Linked DNA regions of Homo sapiens: region 2 is linked to region 1. A link means that fine-mapping ties the variant in region 1 to the expression of a gene that starts in the linked region. Tissue or cell type: whole blood. Region 1 holds a variant in brackets; the other region holds the start of a gene. All regions are shown on one strand. Distances are from middle to middle.

The links. PIP is the estimated chance that this variant, and not a neighbour inherited with it, causes the effect.
Region 2: it holds the start of ZBTB17, and the variant in region 1 is fine-mapped to the expression of ZBTB17 in whole blood (TOPMed, PIP above 0.99).

Annotation. Positions count from the first base shown.
Region 1 is chr1:15,943,927-15,954,123 of GRCh38, forward strand. It overlaps ZBTB17 (zinc finger and BTB domain containing 17), which reads right to left. Exons shown (of 16, transcript NM_003443.3): 3 at 4,365-4,571; 4 at 3,009-3,197; 5 at 2,228-2,368; 6 at 1,789-1,914; 7 at 1,011-1,276; 8 at 771-913; 9 at 374-674. The coding sequence starts at 4,569. LOC124903855 (a long non-coding RNA gene) reads left to right here and starts at 6,005. Exons shown (of 3, transcript XR_007065486.1): 1 at 6,005-6,436; 2 at 8,344-9,119; 3 at 9,635-10,197. RefSeq lists enhancers at 4,599-4,708, 5,309-5,478, 5,970-6,757, 7,177-7,226, 8,470-9,669. The variant T/C (reference allele first, on the strand shown) is at 5,085.
Region 2 is chr1:15,970,321-15,979,962 of GRCh38, forward strand. ZBTB17 (zinc finger and BTB domain containing 17) reads right to left here and starts at 5,781. Exons shown (of 16, transcript NM_003443.3): 1 at 5,663-5,781; 2 at 2,719-2,805. RefSeq lists enhancers at 4,645-4,754, 5,646-6,145 and silencers at 5,175-5,504, 5,545-5,644.

The DNA.
Region 1 (10,197 bases):
CCACAGAGCTCGGCCCCGGGCCCCCTCACCTGCCCCTCCCACAAAGGAACAATTGACTCTCAGGCTTGCCAGGGTCCGTGAAGGGCTCTATCTCTCCTGGGTCAGGAGAGGTCCCAGGTCCCAGCGGTGAGAGGTAAGCCGCCCCACCCCATTTTTTCAGGACCAAACCCCGCCCTGAGTCGGCCTGCCCTCCGCAGAGCAACCGGGAGCTCCCCCGCGGAAGTGGCTCTCGCTGCGCCTGTTTCCTGGGTGAACAAGCTGATGAGCTCCTGGAGGCCGGGGCTGTGCTCCCCGCCCGCCCCACCACGTGGCATGCATGCGGCTGCGGCCACCGGCGGCTGCCAGGCGCTGGTTCCGGGAGGGGTCCGCACACCTGGTTGAACTTCTTGTCGCAGTGTGGGCACTTGTGCTCCTTGTCCGTGTCGTGGGTCTCCAGGTGGCGCATCTTGGAAGTGGGGTCGGAGAAGGAGCGGCCGCAGTAGTCGCACTGGTAGGGCTTCTCGCCGCTGTGCACCAGCTGGTGGCGCTTGAGGTTGCCCGAGGTGGTGAAGAGCTTGCCGCAGTCCTCGCAGCGGTAGCGCGCCTCGCCCGAGTGCCGCTTCTTGTGCAGGTTCAGCAGGCTGATGAGGCGGTAGCTCTTCCCGCACTCCTCGCAGCCGTAGGGCTTCAGAGGGCTGCAGGGCCAGAAGGCGACAGGAGGCAGGGCTCGCTGGGGCGTGAAAGGCCGGGCCTGGCAGGGGCCGGGGTAGGAGGCCGGCTTGGGGCAGTACCTGTGCGTCTTCTCATGGGCCTTGCACGCGGCCGGGTCGGAAAAGGCCTTGCTGCACTCCCGGCACGAGAAGGGCTTCTCCCCCGTGTGGATGCGGATGTGCCGCTTGAAGTTCCCCGTGTGCGTGAACTCCTTCCCACAGTCCTGTGGGTGCAGCGGGGAAGCGGGGTGTGAGGAGCAGCCGGTGGGAGGCCGGAGGGGAGGGACGCTGGCTGGGAGGGCTGGCCATAGTCTCCCTCACCTCGCACTTGTGGATGACGGAGCCGTAGGCCTTGGACTCCGTGCGGTCGCCGTAGGTGCCTGAGCGCAGGCCCCGGGCCTCGGAGCCGAGCTCCTGCCCCGAGTCTGTGCCCGCTGACTCCTCATTCTCGTTCTCCTCGGGGGCCTCTCCGTTCTCCAGCTGGGAACCCTCCTCCTTGACCTCAGCTGGCCCTGCGCCCTCCTCCTCTTGCTCCTCTTGCTCCTTTTGCTCCTCTTCCCCTTTCCGGGCGGGCTCCACCTCCATTTCTGCGGAGAAAAGGGCAAGCATGGAGGCGGCAGCCCTCTCTGCCTGAGCGCACGTGAGGGGCGCCGGCAACATGTGGAAGGGACAGTAAATGGCCCCAGCACTGGCCAAGGAAAGCCCCCGGGGGGGCCTGTGAACTGGGTATTTGCTGCTTGCGGGATGCAGGTAGGGGGCTTAGCCAGCTGGGGTGGGCGCTGTCGGCCAGCAGGCACTGGAGGGTTGCCGTGGGTGGCAAGGCACCCCTGCACGGTGCTGAAAGCCGGGAAGCAGCAGAAGCTCCAGGGCTTTGAAGGACGTGCCTGTGCTCACAGACACACGGCTAGCATGGTCAACCAAGGAACGACCTCGAGACTCAAGAACATGCGAAGACCAAGGTGTCCCAAAGCTGAAGTGCATGGTGACTCCAGGTGGGACTAGCTGGAGGCAGGAGGAGAGGGAGGCCCCAGTGCGCAGTGGAGGCAGGGCCCTGGGAGGATGCACCAGGTAGGGCCTGGTCCTGGCTGGGCGGGGCTACCTTGCTCCGAGCTCTCGGACAAAGCGGCCTCAGCTTCTGCAGCAGCCATGCCACTCGTGGGGTCTGGCTTGAGCTCCACAGGCGGCGGCTCCCGGGGCGCATCGGCTTTCTCTGTCTGCTCTGCACCTGGGTGGGGGAAGCACCGGAGGCTGGATTGCTACCCTCTGCCCAGGGGTCGGATACCTCTCCTGGACCAGCGCGCTGGTGGTGGCTGCGTGTGACCCAGGAGGGGAGGCCCCAGCACACCCCTAGCCAAGGCTGTTGTGTCTGCTCTGGTTGAAACAGACCCCCTGGAACACACAATAGGTCATTCTGGGTAACACAGGCTCAAGAGGTGCAGGTGCCCGTGCTACCTGCCCCAAGGCAGCCCTCACTACCCTGTGCCCAGGCTGCTGGGAGGTGACAGGACAGCCGGCTGGGTCCTTGGCATCTGACTCACCGCTGGCCGCACTCTGGGCCTGACCGCCGCGCTCCTCCTTGAGGTCCCTGCTGGGGCCTATGGGTGTGCTGCGTCCTGCCTGCTCCAGCCTGCTCAGCGTGCTGGTGGCCACCTTCTCCTCTTTGGCTCTCTTGTCCCCTCCTGGAGATGGAACAGGGCAGACCTGCCGTTTCCCATCAAGTGCCCGCCATCTGGAGGTGTGAGGTGGCCCAGAACTTGCTAGGTCTTCCTCGTCCTCCCTAGGGTACCTCTAAGTAGTGGTTTGCTGATTTGTTCATTCACCAAATTATTCACAGGGCACCCACTCCATGCCAGGCTGATGGCTGGGCACTGGGAATACAACAGTGATGGTTCCTGCTTGTGTGGGACATGCAGACCCCATGTGTGCACTAAGGGAGCTGATCAGAGGTCAGCACTAGGAAAGGGAGGAACGCAGCCTCTGGAAGTCTACAGCAAGGCACCTGGCCCATAGTGGGCATCTGAGGGCTTTTATCTTAGCAGCTAAGGGAAGTGGAAGGAGGGGCTCAGGAGAACAGACCCGCAGGAGGGTTTAGGAGCCTGCCCGTGTGCAAAGGCACTGAACCAGGCACGGCTCCCGGGTGCTCTGTAGGGGAAAGGCAGGCAGAGAGGCCACCCTCAGACCTGAGGCTAACCCTTGCCAGCACCCACAACCGAGGCAGGGCCAGATGAGGAAACTGAGACCCAGAAAGTCAGAGGCAGAGCCCACATCAAAAGCCAAGGTCTCTGGCCATCTGCTTGGGAGCAGCTGCCAATAACCTACCTTCTGTGGCCAAGGCCTCCGCATTTCCCCCAGGGCTGGTAGCCGGCTCAGCAAGTGACTTGAGGGCATGGCAGGCCGTGATGATGTCCTGCATTTGGAGGAAAGTGGCCACGGCCAGCACATCATCCACGTTCTCAGGGCTCAGGCTCAGCTTGGCCGTGTACATAAACTCCAGCACCTGCCCCAGGCCTACCAAGGACAGGACAGCTGTCACAGACCCACCTCAAGATCCGGCACCGGCAGCCTGCCCCACCACTCCACTCAGCAGCAGGACGCAGGGATTTAGGAACAGCTGAGTGGCAAGCCTGCATCGCCCCATCTCCTCTGTGGAGAGGAGGCAGGTAACCTGGGGGATCTCAGCACTACCAACAGCCCTTGAAAAGAAGTGCTCGCTGAGGGTCTGAATGCCTGCCCTGCACAGAGAACAAAAGGTGTGAACGCCCACCCTGCACAGAGGACAGGAGGTGTGAATGCCCACACTGCACAGGGAACAGAAGGTGCAACTGTCCGCCCTGCATGGAGGAGGATGGGCTGTGAATGCCGCCCATGCATGGAGAAAAGGAGGTGTGAATATGCACCCTGCACAGAGGACGGGGGTATAAATGCCCATCCTGCAGGGAGGACAGAGTGTGAATGCCTGCCCTGGATGAGGACAGAGGTGTGAATGCCCACCCTGCATTGAGGACGGATGTTGTGAACACCTGCCCTCCACACCCTCTTATTTGGCCGCTACACTTCACCAGTGGAGGACACTCCAACCTGACTTTCATCAGGGCTCTGCTACCAACTCTCTATCTGACTGACCTCCAGGCCAGTCACTGACCTCTTTGGGTCTCAGTTTCCACATCTATAAAATGGGAGAATAATACCTTCTCATGGCATGTCACGTCAGTCTGGGTTGGGAGTCTGAATCCAGGACCAGTTCCTTCCACAACCCCAAGGTCTTCCTGACACTGCTCCCAGCCCCTAGGCCTTCCCCATCACCTCTCCCCACGCTTCTAGTTAGCACTGGGGTAGATGCTTCAGGACTGACTCTGCCACGGAAAGGGGCCAGAGGGCATAGAGCCTGCCTACTCTCTGCCCCTCCCAATGAGGCCTTTCCTGTGTTCACTGCGGCCTAGAGCTCATCATGAGCCCTTCCTGCCCGTTCTCCCCTTACCACTCCACTACCAATCAAAACAGGCCCCCAAAAGGTGGGAGGAACTTAGTACTGAATTGCTCATGGCCTGAAGCCTGTGCGGGAGGCCTGTTGCATCCCACAGCCTGCAGGTGCTGCCCCTGGAGGGCCTAGCATGGCACAGGGCCGGCCATAGCTTCTGGCTATCAGCAAGCTCAGCCCCAGCCCTGACGGGGTACCTGCCGCGTTACTGATGTCCAGGTGCACCACGTCCTTCTGGTCCACGAAGAGCATCTTGAAGTACTCGCTGCAGGCCGCCAGCACTGCTTTATGAGCCTTAAAGTGAACACCGTCCACCACAAAGGTGCAGTCACAGAGAAGCCCCAGCTGCCGCTGCTGGTTCAGCTGTTCCAAGACATGCTGGCTGTGCTGGGGAAAGTCCATGGCTGAAGAAAGCCAAAGGGCGTTGGGGTTAGCACGGAGAAAGGACGTCAGACACGCTCAACAGTCACTCCTAAAGTCCCAGGCGAGCACCATGGAGAAGACAGAATTAAAACAAGTGAGGGCATTTCTGCCACAAAAGGGCAGTTCAGTCCAGATACCCCCTGCAAGCCAAACTCAACCAACTGGTGGCTCCTGTATTCCTGGGTTTACTGTCCAGGAAAAGTGGCCCAAACCAAAAAGCACTGGGGCACCAACACGAGGCAGCCGCCTCCGTATTCAGCCTGATAATAACATGAAAAAGCCAAAAAAGGGAACAAATACAGAACACTGAAATGTGTCATCATTTCAAAAATGAAACGACATGGTCACTTTAACATTTGTTACAAAAAGAATGCATGACAATCTCAGAATAAAGGACAGATGTTTCAATTGGACATGTTGGTCTTTAAGAAAACTTTCCTATTTTCTCATTCTCTCATGGACAGGTGAAGACAAGACGGTGTTTCATCAGCCAG[T/C]GTTGCAGAACTCGGCCCCTCTCAGGCTCTGCACGTACCCCATCCCCCGACAAAGCCTAGCTCTCCCTCTCTTTCTGATTCATGGGAACTACCTAGAGTTGCGGAGTCTTCTGACTCCAGAAACCTGTGTCCTGGTGGCCATCCCAGGAGAAACAACTTTGATCCTGACCCCAAGAGCTGCTGACCTGGCCACAACTTCTCTGTCAAGGGCCTCACTTAATGCCTGGAAATCCCACAAGTGAAAATGCTCAGGAAAATTCCATGGCCCAGTGCCGAGCAGTCTTGAACCGCACAAGCCGTGACTAAGTAACTATCTAAAACAGCTCTCCCTCCCGCCCCAACACCACCCAGAGTGGGCGTCAACATCAGCAATTGTCTAGGGAAAATAAGCGGGCCCTCTTTTCTAGAAAGAACCCATTTCAGAATGTTTGAAGAGAAAAATCAACACCCACTGTCTGGGGCCACATTAGACAGATTCAACTGGGCACGGCTGTCACGCCCTGGCCCAGGATCTGCTAAGGGGTAGTGAGTTCTCTGCCTACTCCTCCTCTTCTCTGAGGCCTGAGTCTGCACGGGGCTGGCTCCCCGGCTTCTGGGCAGGTGAGAGGGACACTTTGGGGCTCTCCGCCCCCAGTTTCGGCAGCTCTGCCCCGGCTCAGGCACTCCCCTGTGACATCAGCATCTTGGGGGGTGAATCACTGCCGCAGCTCTGAAGCTGCTGTGGCCATGCATGGCTGTCGGGCTGTGATGAGTCCGGAGGAAGCCACGCCCCTCACACCAGCACAGGTCGGCCTTGAAGGGCGCCAAGGCCTCCCACCACGTGATGTCTGGAAACTTTTCACAAGTGGGGGTATCTGCTGAGCGGGGGGAAGTGACGCAACAAATAACGGGGAGCATGGCAGTGGCAACAGGCATGAGCCACAGCGCACCAGCCTCCGAGCCACAAGTTCAGCGTTGCTGCTGCTGCCAGAGGCCCAGAAACAGCTGTTCCCTCCCCCTACACATCCCCGCGCAGGCTTTGGCTCTCTCAATGACATTCCTAAATGGCTGTGGCTAGAGCCCTAAGTGTAAGCACTGGAGAGCCAGGGCCAGCCCCGAAATCAGGAGGTAAGGCCCTGGGGCAGCTGGCCCCGCACCAAGTGCACCAAGTGGCTGGCAGCAGCACACGGCCACCTGGAGCAAAGCACAGAGGCCTTTCTCTCCTGTCCTCAGTCCCTGGAAGCAGCAGGTTCCTATCTGTGACCTGAAGGAACGCAAGGGAGAATCGTGGCTGCGCTGCTCCTATGCACTGGACATGGGGAGGCACCAATGTCCAGCTTGTGGATCAAGACCTGAAGGGCACAAAGGGCAAGGTGGGTGCAGAAGGAACCAAAGGCAGGGGCGAGGTGGGCCCAGGCCACGGCAACCCTAGAGCTGTCTTCTCCTGGCTGTGGAAAAGGTCACGTGAGCACACAGGTGTGTGGGTGGCAAGCCCTGGGCCTCAATTGCTAGTCACCCCCTACATACCCAGGAGCCCCAAGTGCAGAAGAGGGGAATACCAGGGCCCACACAGGGCAAAATCCTCAACTGGCTTCAGAAGCAGCCCATCTGGAACTTGCAAGTGAGGCCCAACCCTTCTCTCCAGGCTGTGTGCCTGGCTTCCTCACCTTCCCCAGGAGCCAACCCGAAACTTGAGCCACCCAGGTGCTAAAACAACCTGGGGAGCATCAGCTGAACCCCCAGAGGTACAAAGAACCCTCTAGCAGGAAAACCATCTGACTTGCCGGGAAGAGACATGTGAGGAGACTCCTAGCCAAGGGGAGGGACAGGATCAATCCCCTTGTGTGGGCCCAAGGCTGGGATGAGCCTCCCTGTGGCCATGTGCCCTGGGGCTTCCTGGCAAGCGCAGCCCCGCCCAGCCATACAGCTGTCCTGGGACTGGATGGATGGATGGATGGGTAAGCTAGATAGATTAGATAAGACACATTCGCTAGATAATAAAATAGTAAAGGCCCCAAGGACAGGGTGGGTGGTGGCCCAGCCCCCCACATACCACCACCCGCCAAGAGAGCAGCTGTGTGCCCATGAGCAACATTTTCCACCGTGCTGACTGCACTTTTCCAATGCAAGATGCCCGCCCAGAAGTGGGCTCCTCCCACACACGGGTGTTAGGAGGAGAAACAGAGGCGTCTATAATCCTCTGAGGCTGCCCCAGCAGAGAAACGCACCAAAAGGGAAGAAAACAGGAGAAATGATAAGAAGGGGGGAGGAAGAAGTGAAGATGGGCAAAGTAAGGGAAGGAAAGGAGAGAGAAGAAGGAAGGAAGGAAGGGAGAGAGGGAGGGAGGGAGGGGCCCTGTACCCACAGAGAGATCAGCAGCAGCTGAAATGCGCTTACCAGTACAATCTGGGACTGGCCTCCCAGGGGTGCAAGAGCAGCTCGAGGGGGCCAGGAGGGGGCGGACTAAGTGCTAAATGGTGTTACCCGCAGAACTGTGTCACTGTGGACTTTACAACCGAAGCCCCACCCTCACAGGGCAAGTGGAGCTCAGGGTCCCCCAGGCTGTTCCCCAGCCGGGAAGCTTTAACAGCCCCTCTCTCAAGGCCCGTGGCGAGACGGAGGCATGGCCGGCTGGGTCCTTCCCTCTGAGGGGCTGAGCTAGAACTAGGCAGTCCCCCACCTCCAACCCACGTGAACTGCTCTGGAGGGATCACCAGCCTGTATCCTAGTTCCCCTCTTATCTATTCCTCAGCGACAGGAACCCAGCAGGACGGCCAGGCTTGGAGGGACATAGGAAAAGGGTTTGGGAGCGAAGGGGTGTGCAGGTCCTAGGAACATATCCCCTCCTAAGTACGTGCTAGGAGGTGCTGTCTGGGGAGACGTTAACCACAGTAATCAGATCAACAGCCAGCTGCTCCCCATCGCCCCCAGATGTGCGGGAACACAGGGTGAAGAAATACTGTTCCCACCAGGCAGCCTGCCCCACCCCACCCTTGGAATACGGTGCCCATCGCTCAAGCACAAGTGTCAAGGTCTGTGGTCTTGTCTTCACCTTGCGTGATGGGCGATAAATATGTGCACTAGTTAAAGCAACTTCTAAGGAAGATCCTAAAACCTTAGAACCATAGAAAATGCCAACAGAACGAGACCACAGAGCCCAGCAGCCCAGAGTCCTCATTTTAGATGCAGACTGACCTGACCCCCACTCACAAAGTCTTAGCTGCAATCGGGCACCTTTTCCCAACACCTCTAGTCACTCAGTTTTTCTCCCTCACCTCAGGTGTCAGAGCTGGGATGCTGTCCTGATGACCAAAAGCTTAGGTGGACACAGAGCCCTGGGCTCCCTCACGAGGAATTCACTGGGGAACAAAAAAGTGAGGCACTGAGGACACCTGCAGTGTGAGTCCGGACAGGCACACTGACACAGCGGAACAGACGCGGCAGAACCGACACGGCGGAACGGACGCGGATGATGCAGAGCCCCTCTCAGGATGGCCAGCCATTCCTCCCCTGCCAGGGCCCACCACGCCTCCCATGGAGAGACGGTGTCTGTTTCCCTCCTGTCGGAATCTGGATGGCCCAGAGACGACTCTGACATCAGGATGCTGGGACTGTGCCAATTCCAGACCTAAACCTAAAGAAGCCTGGAAGATTCTGCTGTGGCTCCTGGGAATCCAGTCACCGAGCTGGAGGAAAGTCCAAGCTCCCGTGTGAGTGGGAGACACATGGAGGGGCTCTGGGGAGAGGGCACATGGAGAAGAGCAGAGAGGCCACTGACAGCACCAATGCTCTGTGGCGAGGGACACACTTTCCTGGACCTCCCAGCCCAGCTGTGCGCTGCTGCACGCACGGCCTCAACCAACACCTCGGGGAGCAAGCGACTGCCTGTCCACCCATCCAACTAAGAAAGACTGACTCACCGATGACTTATGCCACTGGGTTTTGGGGTGCTGTGCTGTGCAGCAGGAGATAACTGAGACGGACGGTAAAACCAGGAAGAAAAGGAAGTGATTCAGCCAAAGGTTCAGGATGACGGTTCTCTCTGGATGGGGGAGGGTAAGCAGGGGACTTCTGAGATCCTAGAAGAGTTCTCTTTCTTTACTTGGAGTCCCCTGGATTTATTACTTAAACTAAATGTGTATATTTCATATACATTTACATGAAAACATTCCAATTATTTAAAAAAATGTATTTTTTTTTTTTTGTAGAAGCAGGATTTCACCATGTTGCCCAGGCTGGTCTCAAACTCCTGGGCTCAAGCAATCTGCCTACCTTGGCCTTCTAAAGTGCTGGGATTACAGGCGTGTGCTACTGCACCCAGCCATTTTTCAAAAATTTTAATAAGAAAAAAGTGAGGTTCAGTTGCCAGACTTGATCCAGTCATGGCACAGAGTGTGCTGGCCAAGGCTGGGTTGCTCCCAACCACACTCCCGGCCATGCTCACCAGGGCTGCCTTGAGGCCCAGCGTGGCAGCGAGGGTCAGAGGAGCTAAGAGAGCCGCCAAGGCTCCTGCGGGTGGGATTTGGAAGGGCTGGCCCCAGAAAGCACAACCCATTGCATCTGTCTTGCAGTCCCAAAGCACCACAGACTGCTGAGTAAGCCAGGTTTCTGTTTGGGCCGTGAAATCCACTCTGGTGCCAAGTTCCATACTGCTGCCTCCACGACGCAGGGATTCCAGTGGCGGCTGAGCCCCATGGAAGCAGCAGAGCCTCCCGGGACAGGCCAAGCAGGACCTGGATCTGGGTTCCACCAGCCACCCGCAGGTGATCTCCAGCAAAGCTTCTCCAATGGCCAACAGGGCTAATGGTATGACTTCCTTTGTGACAGGATTAAATTAAGTAACATAGGTCAAGACCCTGTACAGAGCCTGGCATATCGTGAGCATGCAACAAACTACTGTTGCCAGGAAGCAGAGATGCAGATGATAGTTTCATTTTTTTAGGCCAAAGTCTTTATCAGATGGTTTCTATATACCCCTTTGCACTGGGCACATGGGGTACTTGACCTTGTTAAGAGGTGTAATCATAACCCATCACTCCTAAATGCAATCTGGAAGAATTCCAGAGCACAATTAGCATGAAGACAGGGAGGAAGTGATGGGAGGGGCACTGAGTGGAGAGACATCTAGAGCTAT
Region 2 (9,642 bases), 26 kb after region 1:
ATAAAAAAAGTTTTGATTTGCTCTCACTATGCACTTTGGACTTAAAGAAGAAAAAAAAAAAAAAGGAAGAGCCTTTTTGTTTTATTTTTGAGACAGAGTCTCACTCTGTCACCTAAGCTAGAATGCAGTGGCGTGATCTCAGCTCACTGCAACCTCCGCCTCCCGGGTTCTCCTGCCTCAGCCTCCCGAGTAGCTGGGACTACAGGCACCCACCACCACACCCAGCTAATTTTTTTTTTTTCTCTTGAGATGGAGTCTCGTTCTGTCACCCAGGCTGGAGTGCAGTGGCGTGATCTCGGCTCACTGCAACCTCCGCTTCCCAGGTTCAAGTGATTCTCTTGCCTCAGACTCCTGAGTAGCTGGGATTACAGGCGCCTGCCACTGCGCCCAGCTAATTTTTGTATTTTTAGTAGAGACGGAGTTTCACCATGTTAGCCAGGATGGTCTCGATCTCCTGACCTCGTGATCCACCCACCTCAGCCTCCCAAAGTGCTGGGATTACAGGCGTAAGCCACCGCGCCCAGCCAGGAGAGCCTTTTCCATAACCAAATACAGACAATACTGACTAAATCTCCTGAGCATATTCAGGCAGTCAGGTCTGCACTGTGATAGCAACCTAGAGAAGGAGAATGCTTTCTACTGAAAAGCATGTGGCCCTTTGTGACTCTGTTGTTCCATTTTTAATATCTAATGATTCAATAGAGGGAAAAAAAAAGTCTAAGTAGTTATGTATCATGGTGGACCAGAGGGATGCAAGAGAAGTTCATGTGGGGCTGGCCTCACCTCCTGAGAAATCAGTGTTCACAACTTCCTTGTAATAGTATGAGCCTTTGGCACCATTACTGCACCAAGAAGCCAATAGATCAAAACTTGTTTGCTAAAATGTATGTAAAAATTCTGAAATTCCCTATTCTGTGTGTATGAAAAAAAAAAATCAAACACTAAGACACATGTTTTGGGTAGGTAGGTGGGTGGGTGGGGGAAATCTCTCTCTCTCTCTGTATGTGTGTATGTATATATATATATGTACATACACACACAATATATATATATACACACACTATATATATATACACACTATATATATACACACACACTATATATATATACACACACACTATATATATACACACACACTATATATACACACACACTATATATATACACACACTATATATATATACACACACACTATATATATACACACACACTATATATATACACACACACTATATATATACACACACACTATATATATATACACACACACTATATATATACACTATATATATAAAATATATATTTTGCTGACAGAAAAAAAAAAACGAAAAGGTTGGGGAGTGCTGCACTATGCAGCAAACCCTGTGAATTACCTGCCTGACCTCATGTAATTCTCCAGACAATTCTGTGAATTACCTGCCTGTCCTCATGTAATTCTCCAAACAATTCTGTCATCCCTATTTTACAGATGAGGAAACTGAGGCTCAGCAATGAAACTGAGTAAAAGGCTTGCTGTCTGATGTGTCAGAAGACAATCTTGTGATTAGGAAAATTAATAGTCATTACTTTTTTTTTTTTTAACTCTTTGGGACACAGTTTCAGAAGGAACTGACTGTCAGGACACAGAGCCACTCAACGGGAGGGCAGATTCACACCTGACCCCAGAGTCCTAGCTGCCTCTACCTGTCCAAGGGGAATTTTACAGTGATCAGTCCAAAATGCGCGGTTTGCAACATCTTCACCCCCTCAGGAAAGCCTTCCAGCGCCAGTGCATCCTCCCTGTGTGCGCACACCCTCCACCAGCCCTCCAAGGTATTTCCTGCATTGCATTGTGAGGATACACATGGCTGGGAGCACCTGCTCCCGGGATTCAGTCTTACTTGTGCCAGCATCCCTAGCACCCAGCACAATGCCTGACACATGTTGGGCACAGAAACAATGAATGGATAAACAAGCCTGGCCTCCCTGGGCCCAAGCCCTGTAAACCTACCCAAAGCCAGAGCAGCCTGCCTTGGGGACTCAGTGGACCTCCCCTCAGGCTGGGATCACACCCCCAAGAGAGTAATCCAGACAGACTGAGGACAGAGCAGGTTCTCTCAGCCAGCTTTTTCTCCAGCACTGAAACAGTCACAATCTGTTCTTTAGCTGTGCACCAGATGCAGGAACTGGCTTATGTTTGGGAACCATGTTGCACAAAAATCCCACCTTAAACATTAGAACTTTAAAAGGAATGAGTGTGTGCTCGCTGCTCTGTGTCCCTTTTTGCCCTAGGGAGATCATACATGATGGCAGGAGCTACAGCAGCCAGCTTGGACCATGAGATGGAAGCCTAAGTTTGAGCAAGAAAAGCCACATTATCAAAGGAATCCTGCTCCCAGATGATCTCACAGAACACAGCAAGCTGTGCTACCAGCTCTGGACTGTGTACTTCCAGAATGTTAAGGAGCAAGGAATAAACTTCTGTTTCCACCACTGTAGATTTCACCTAACTAAAGGCGTGAGCATTGCCCAGTGATCATCCACTCTGGCCTCTCTCTGCAGGTAAAACAATAATAGTAAGATCAACAATTTCCCAACCAAACTGTAACTGGGATTTTGTCATTACTATATAATTTTGAAGAAAAGGCTATCAGGAAAGAATCATTTGAATCATGTTGAACCTAGAGAAAAAGGACAAACTGATCTGATTTGTTTCATCCTTGAGTATTACAGACATACCTCAGATTTCCAGACAGCCCAGGCTACTCTTTTCTGACAGTTTGCCTGTGTAAACTCCAGCTTGGCTCCCCTCGTCCGGCTCATTACCTGAATCAATGACACACAAGTGGAAAATCTGATGAGAACCTAAAGGGTACCTGCTCCCTCAGAGCTGCCTTTTCATGCATCCATCAAACATAGACAAATACAGAGTGCTTAGCACAGAGCCTGGCCCAAGGAAGTGCTGAATAAATGGCCTGCTCTGTGCCAGATAGCATGCTGACACTGGGACACAAAGATGCACAGACTCAGCCTCAGGCCCTGCTCTCAAGAACTCCAGCTCAATAAGAGACAGGACACAATGTTAAGAAGGAAAAACGACAAGGTTTGTATCCAAGCATTACTGCAGCATTGGCACTGCTCTGGGATATCCTGGACACTTTGTTTCTCATTGCATACCCTACCCTAGGTGAGCTCATCCCCTCCCATGACTTCAGTGACCTTTGATGGTGATAACTACTAGCTGAACAGGTGCACTTGAATGTTTTACAGGCATCCAACTCCAACATGTTCAAAACTAAACATATCTGCCCTCCCCCAGATCTGCTCCCCGTACTGCTCCCTATCACATGGAGCAGCATCCAACACCCATCAGTCAAAAACTGGGGTGATCCTGACTCCTCCCTGCCCCTAACTCTCATCAAACTAATCACCAAATTGTGTCAATTCTATCGCTAAAACCATCTCTCCTCACTCTCTGCCTTTAACTCACACCTTTATTTCTCACTTGGATTATTCTAGCAGGCTCTTAATTGGCCTACAGGCCCACTCCCTTTGATACATTCTTCACTTAGCCAGAGTGATCTTCCTAATCCACAAATCTGATTCGTGGCCAGGCATGGTTGCACATGCCTATAATCCCAGTACTTTGGGAGGCTGAGGCGGGAGGATCATTTGAGGCCAAGAGTTCGAGACCAGTCTGGGCAACATAGTGAGACCCCATCTCTACTAAAAATTTAAAAAATTAGCCAGGTGTTATGGTGCACGCCTGTAGTCCCAGCTAGTTGGGAGGCTGAGGCAGAAGGATCACTTGAGTTCAGATCAAGGCTGCAGTGAACTATGATTATGCTGCCACTGCACTCCAGCCTGGGTGACAGAGCAAGACGTAGTCTCAAAAAAAAAAAACAAAAACAAAAACAAAAAAAACCTGATTCTTTTATTTCAGGCTGGAAATAAAAGAATCCTCCCACCTCAGCCTTCCAAGAAGCTGGGACCACCAGAGGTGTACTCCACCATGCCCGGCTATTTTTTTTTTCCTTTTTTTTTTTTTTTCTTTTAATAAAGATGGGGTCTTGCCATGTTGCCCAGGCTTGTCTCAAACTCCTGGGCTCAAATGATCATCCCACGTTGGCCTCCCAAAGTGCTAGAATTACAGAGTAAGCCACCGCACCTGGCCACAGATCTGATTCTTAAATGGCTTCCCATTAACCTAAAGTTTAAAGTCCTTAACTAGGTTTACAACGTCCCCTAAGACCAGACCACAGCTTGCTGCTGCTTTTTTTTTTTTTCTTTTTTGAGACGGAATCTCGCTCTGTCGCCCAGGCTGGAGTGCAGTGGCGCCGTTTCGGCTCACTGCAACCTCCGCCTCCTGCGTTCGAGCGATTCTCATACCTCAGCCTCCTGAGCAGCTGGGACTACAGGCGCGCGCAAGCACGACCGGCTAATTTTTGTATTTTTAGTAGAGACGGGGGTTTCACCATATTGGCCAGGCTGGTCTCGAACTCCTGACCTCAAGTGATCTGCCCGCCTGGGCCTCCCAAAGTGCTGAGATTACAAGCGTGAGACAACGAGCCCGGCCCAGTCTGCTTCTTTATTTAGCCTGATCTCTCTCTCCTCTCTCTACGAAGATGAGTTTTCTCACAAACTACACCCTTAACTGGGAATACCCGTTTTCCTGCCTCACTCCGCTGAGCTTCCCTTAGATCTTAGCTTTCTGGGGGACAGAAGCCTCCCGGGATTCCCCCTAGGCTGAGTGATGTGTCTCTACTCCGTGCTTCAGAGGAAGGAGGGCTTTCTGCCCTCGCAGCAGTATCAGAATTGCTGATTTACCTGTATGTCTCCCACATGGGTCTCTGAGCTCTGGGTGACAATGGTGATACAATTAATAACAGCAACAAACACACAGCATTTACTTTGTACCCATAAGTGTTCTAGGAGCCTCATTTCCCCTTTATTACAATCTTAGGAGGCTGATTTTATTATCATCTCTGCTTAAAGGATGAATAAACCCAGGCAGAGAGAAAAAGCCAAAAGTGCCTAAGGTCACAGCAGGGAATGGGGATTCAAACCCCGCTGCTGGGCTCCACGGTTCACACTCCTAACTCCAGGATCGAGGATCCTGGAGGATCGAGTCCGCCCGCATCACTCGCTCTAGCTTCACCATCTATCAGGTGCTGAACCACCGTCCGCAGTACGAATGAATGAATGAAATGCTTTTATACAGGGACAGCGTCGGCCTCCTCTGTCAGCTCCTCCTAGGCCCGGGCAGCCCCGCTCCCTCCCGCCCCGGCCGGCCGACAGGAGCTGCCCCGGCACTGCGCTCCCTCGCGGCCGCAGAACGCCCACCCTCGACAGCGCGCGGGGTCAAGGGGCGGTGACAGCCGTGCGGCGGGGGCGGAGATGCTACCAGCTGGGGTGTCATCCAGCCCGGGAGGTGACACGCGCCCCCTCGCCCGGGCGGTCGCCTGGCCGCCCACTCCCCGCCAGCACGCCCGGCGACGCCCCCCGCCCCGCCACCCCACAATCTCCCGCCCAGCGGTGTCCCCTCAGCCCCGGTTGGCGTCCCATTCCACTTCCCTCCCCTCCCCCACACAACCGTCACCGGCGTCCCACCGCGCCCCATCCTCCGCCGCCTCCGCCCCGGCTCCCGGGACTTCCCCGGCCCCGGGCGATTGTTGACACTCACCTGCCATGTCCCGGACCCCACCGCAGAGGGAGGTGCATCACGGCCGCGAGAAGGCCGGGGACGGCACTCCAGAGCAGACAAAGGGCGCCGCCATGTTAGAGTCGGGCGGAACCGACCTCGCAGGCTTCCCGGCTGCAACTTCCGGCGCATGCGCAGCGTCCTCGCTAGGAGAGCGCCCATAGACAGACGCATGCGCCTAGCTATCCAAAAGTTCCACCTTACAGTACTTCGGCGCTCAGAGTTGTCCTCATTGTACCCCTGCCTTGGTTTCTCTTCCAAATATAACAGTAACATCATGTGTTCAGCTCTTACTGTGTGCCAGGCACTGTGTTAAGCGCTTTACATGCATTATCTCTTTAAATCCTCACACCAATTATAAGATAGTATTATTCTCCTAATTTTAAAAAAGGGAAAACAGACTCAAAAAGTGTAAATCAATGTCCATGGTCACATATCTTGTAAGTGGTGGACCGGAGATATGAATCTACTTGTGGCTTCAAAGCTGCAGATCCCAGTTGTGTTTTTCTACCTTCTAAACCGAACATTATCCCCTTCCCTGATTGTCTTGGACGTGAATAAAGGTGTCTGAAAACAAAAGTGTCTGCAGACTTGCATGGCCCCTCCGTGGCCCCTCTTCTACCTTTTTGGTAGCTCTAGGCCACTGACTTCTCCACTTTCTCACAGTCTGAGGGCTTTCTCCTTTGTTTACTTCTAGGCCTGCATATTTTCCATAATCTATAATTTTAACAACACTCTTGCCACTACTGTAAGCTCTTTTGCCCCCTTGCCTTTTTGTCACATGGATTTGGTAAGAATACCAACGCTGTGTGAATCCAAATGCACCTTTTCTCTTTGTTAGCTCCCAAACAGCCAAGCACAGCTGAAGAAAGTATGCAGTGGGGAGACTGTTCCCTAGAGATTCATGTCCACTAGCCTTCAGTGGGATGCAACATATGCCAATCTGGCAACTCACTCCTGTCTTCACAATGGCTAGAGAAACAAAAAAGCCCAGCAGTTGACTTCACCCCTTCTTGTCTTTAGGTTTTTTTTTTTTTTTTGGAGACAGAGTCTCACTCTGTCTTCCAGGCTGGAGTGCAGTGGCGCTGTCTCGGTTCACTGCAAGCTCCGCCTCCCGGGTTCACGCCATTCTCCTGTCTCAGCCTCCAGAGTAGCTGGGACTACAGGCGCCCGCCACAACACCTGGCTAATTTTTTGTATTTTTAGTAGAGACGGGGTTTCACCATGTTAGCCAGGATGGTCTCGATCTTCTGACCTCGTGATCCACCTGCCTCAGCCTCCCAAAGTGCTGGGATTACAGGCGTGAGCCGCCGTGCCCGGCCGTCTTTCTTTTCTTTCTTTTTTTTTTTTTTAGATGGGGTCTCGCTATGTTGCCCGGCTGGACTGAAACCCCTAGGCTTAAGCATCCCATTTCAACCTCCCCAGTAGCTGAGACTACAGGCATGTGCACCCACAACTGGCTAACTTCACCCGTTCTTTTTAACTATATTTTTAATTTTTATTTCAGTAGTTTTTGGGGAACACATGGTGTTTGGTTACATGGATAAGTTCTTTAGTGATGATTTCTGTGATTTTGGGGGACCCATGACCTGAACAGTGTACATTCTACCCAAGGTGTAGTCTTTTTTTTTTTTTTTTTTTTTTTTTGAGATGGAGTCTTGCTCTGTTGCCCAGGCTGGAGTGCAGTGGCGCCATCTGGGCTCACTGCAAGTTCCGCCTCCCAGGTTCACGCCATTCTCCTGACTCAGCCTCCCGAGTAGCTGGGACTACAGGCGCCCGCCACCATGCCCGGCTAATTTTTTGTATTTTTAGTAGAGACGGGGTTTCACCGTGTTAGCCAGGATGGTCTGGATGTCCTGACCTCGTGATCCGCCCGCCTCGGCCTCCCAAAGTGCTGGGATTGCAGGCGTGAGCCACTGCGCCCAGCCAACCCAAAGTGTAGTCTTTTATCCCTCACCCCTCCCACCTTTCCCCCTGAGTTCCCAAAGTCCATTGTGTCATTCTTATGCCTTTGCGTCCTCATAGCTTAGCTCCCACCTAAAAGTGAGAGCATATGATATTTGGTTTTCCATTCCTGAGTTACTTCATTTAGAATAATGGTCTCTAGCTCCATCCATGTTGCTGCAAATGCCATTATTTCATTCCTTTTTATGGCTGAGTAGTATTCCATGTTATATATATATACCACATTTTCTTTATCCACTCGTGCATTGATGGGCATTTGAGATGGTTCTATATGTTTGCAATTGTGAACTGTGCTGCTACAAACATGCGTGTGGAAGTGTATTTTTCATATAATGACTTATTTTCCTCTCTGTAGATACCCGCTAGTGGGATTGCTGGATCTAATGGCAGATTTACTTTTAGTTCTTTAAGGAACATCCATATTGTTTTCCATAGTGGTTGTGCTAGTTTACATTCCCACCAGCAGTGCAAAAGTGTTCCCTTTTCACCACAACCATGTCAACATCTATCATTTTTTCATTTTTGATTGTGGCCATTCATGCAGGAGTAGGTATGGCATTATGGTTTTGATTTGCATTTGCCTGATGATTAGTGATATTGAGCATTTTTTCACGTTTGTTGGCCATTTGTGTATCTTCTTTTAAGAACTGTCGGGCCGGGCGCGGTGGCTCACGCCTGTAATCCCAGCACTTTGGGAGGCCGAAGTGGGCAGATAGCCTGAGGTCAGGAGTTCGAGACCAGCCTGGTCAACATGGCGAAACCTCGTCTCTACTAAAAAATCAAAAAAATAAAAATAAAAAAAATAGCCAGCATCGTGGTGGGCACCTGTAGTACCAAGCTACTCAAGAGGCTGAGGCAGGGAGAATTGCTTGATCCTGAGGCTGCAGTGAGCTAAGATTGTGCCACTGCACTCCAGCCTGGGCGACAGTGTGAGACTCTGTCTCAAAAAAAAAAAAATAAGAATTGTCTGTTCATGTCCTTAGCATGTGACTTTTTAATAGGATTATTTGCTTTTTTCTTGCTGATTTGTTTGAGTTCCTTGTAGATTCTGGGTATTAGTTCTTTGTTGGATGCATAGTTTGTGAAAATTTTCTCCCACTCTGTGGGTTGTCTGTTTACTCTGCTGATTATTTATTTTGCTGTGCAGAAACTTTTTAGTTTAATTAGGTCCCATTTATTTATATTCATTTTTGTTGCATTTGCTTTTGGGTTCTTAGTCATAAAGTCTTCGCCTAAGCCAATGTCCAGAAGAGTTTTTCCAATGTTGTCTTCTAGAATTTTTGTGGTTTCAGGTCTTAGATTTCAGTCTTTGATCTATCTTGAGTTGATATTTGTATAAGGTGAGAGATGAGGATACAGTTTCATTCTTCTACGTGTGGCTTGCCAATTATCCCAGTACCATTTACTGAATAGGGTGCCCCTCCCCCCTTTATATTTTTGTTTGCTTTGTTGAAGATCCATTGGATATAAGTATTTGGCTTTATTTCTGGGTTCTCTATTCTGTTCGTTTGGTCTATGTACCTATTTTATTCCAGTACCGTGCTGTTTTGGGGACTATAGCCTTGTAGTATAGTTTGAAGTTGGGTAATGTGATGCTCCCAGATTTGTTCTTTTTGCTTAGTTTTGCTTTGGATATGCAGGCCCCTTTTTGGTTCCATACTTCCCCATTTCTTAAAAAAATTTTTTTTAAATCATAGTAAGAAAACTTAATATGAGAGCTGTCCTCTTAAGAATTTGTTCTTTCTCTTCAACTTTTATTTTAAGTTCAAAGGTACATGTGCAGGAGGTGCAGGTTTGTTACATAGGTGGTAATATATGACCCATGTTTACTTTAGGTTGAACTAATGTTTGGACTTAACATTTAAATGTATTACAGGCCAGGTGTGGTGGCTCATGCCTGTAATCCCAGCACTTTGGGAGGCCAAGGCAGGAGGATCGCTTGAGACTGGGAATTGGAGACAAGCCTGGGCAACATAATGAGACTCCCCCTCATCTCT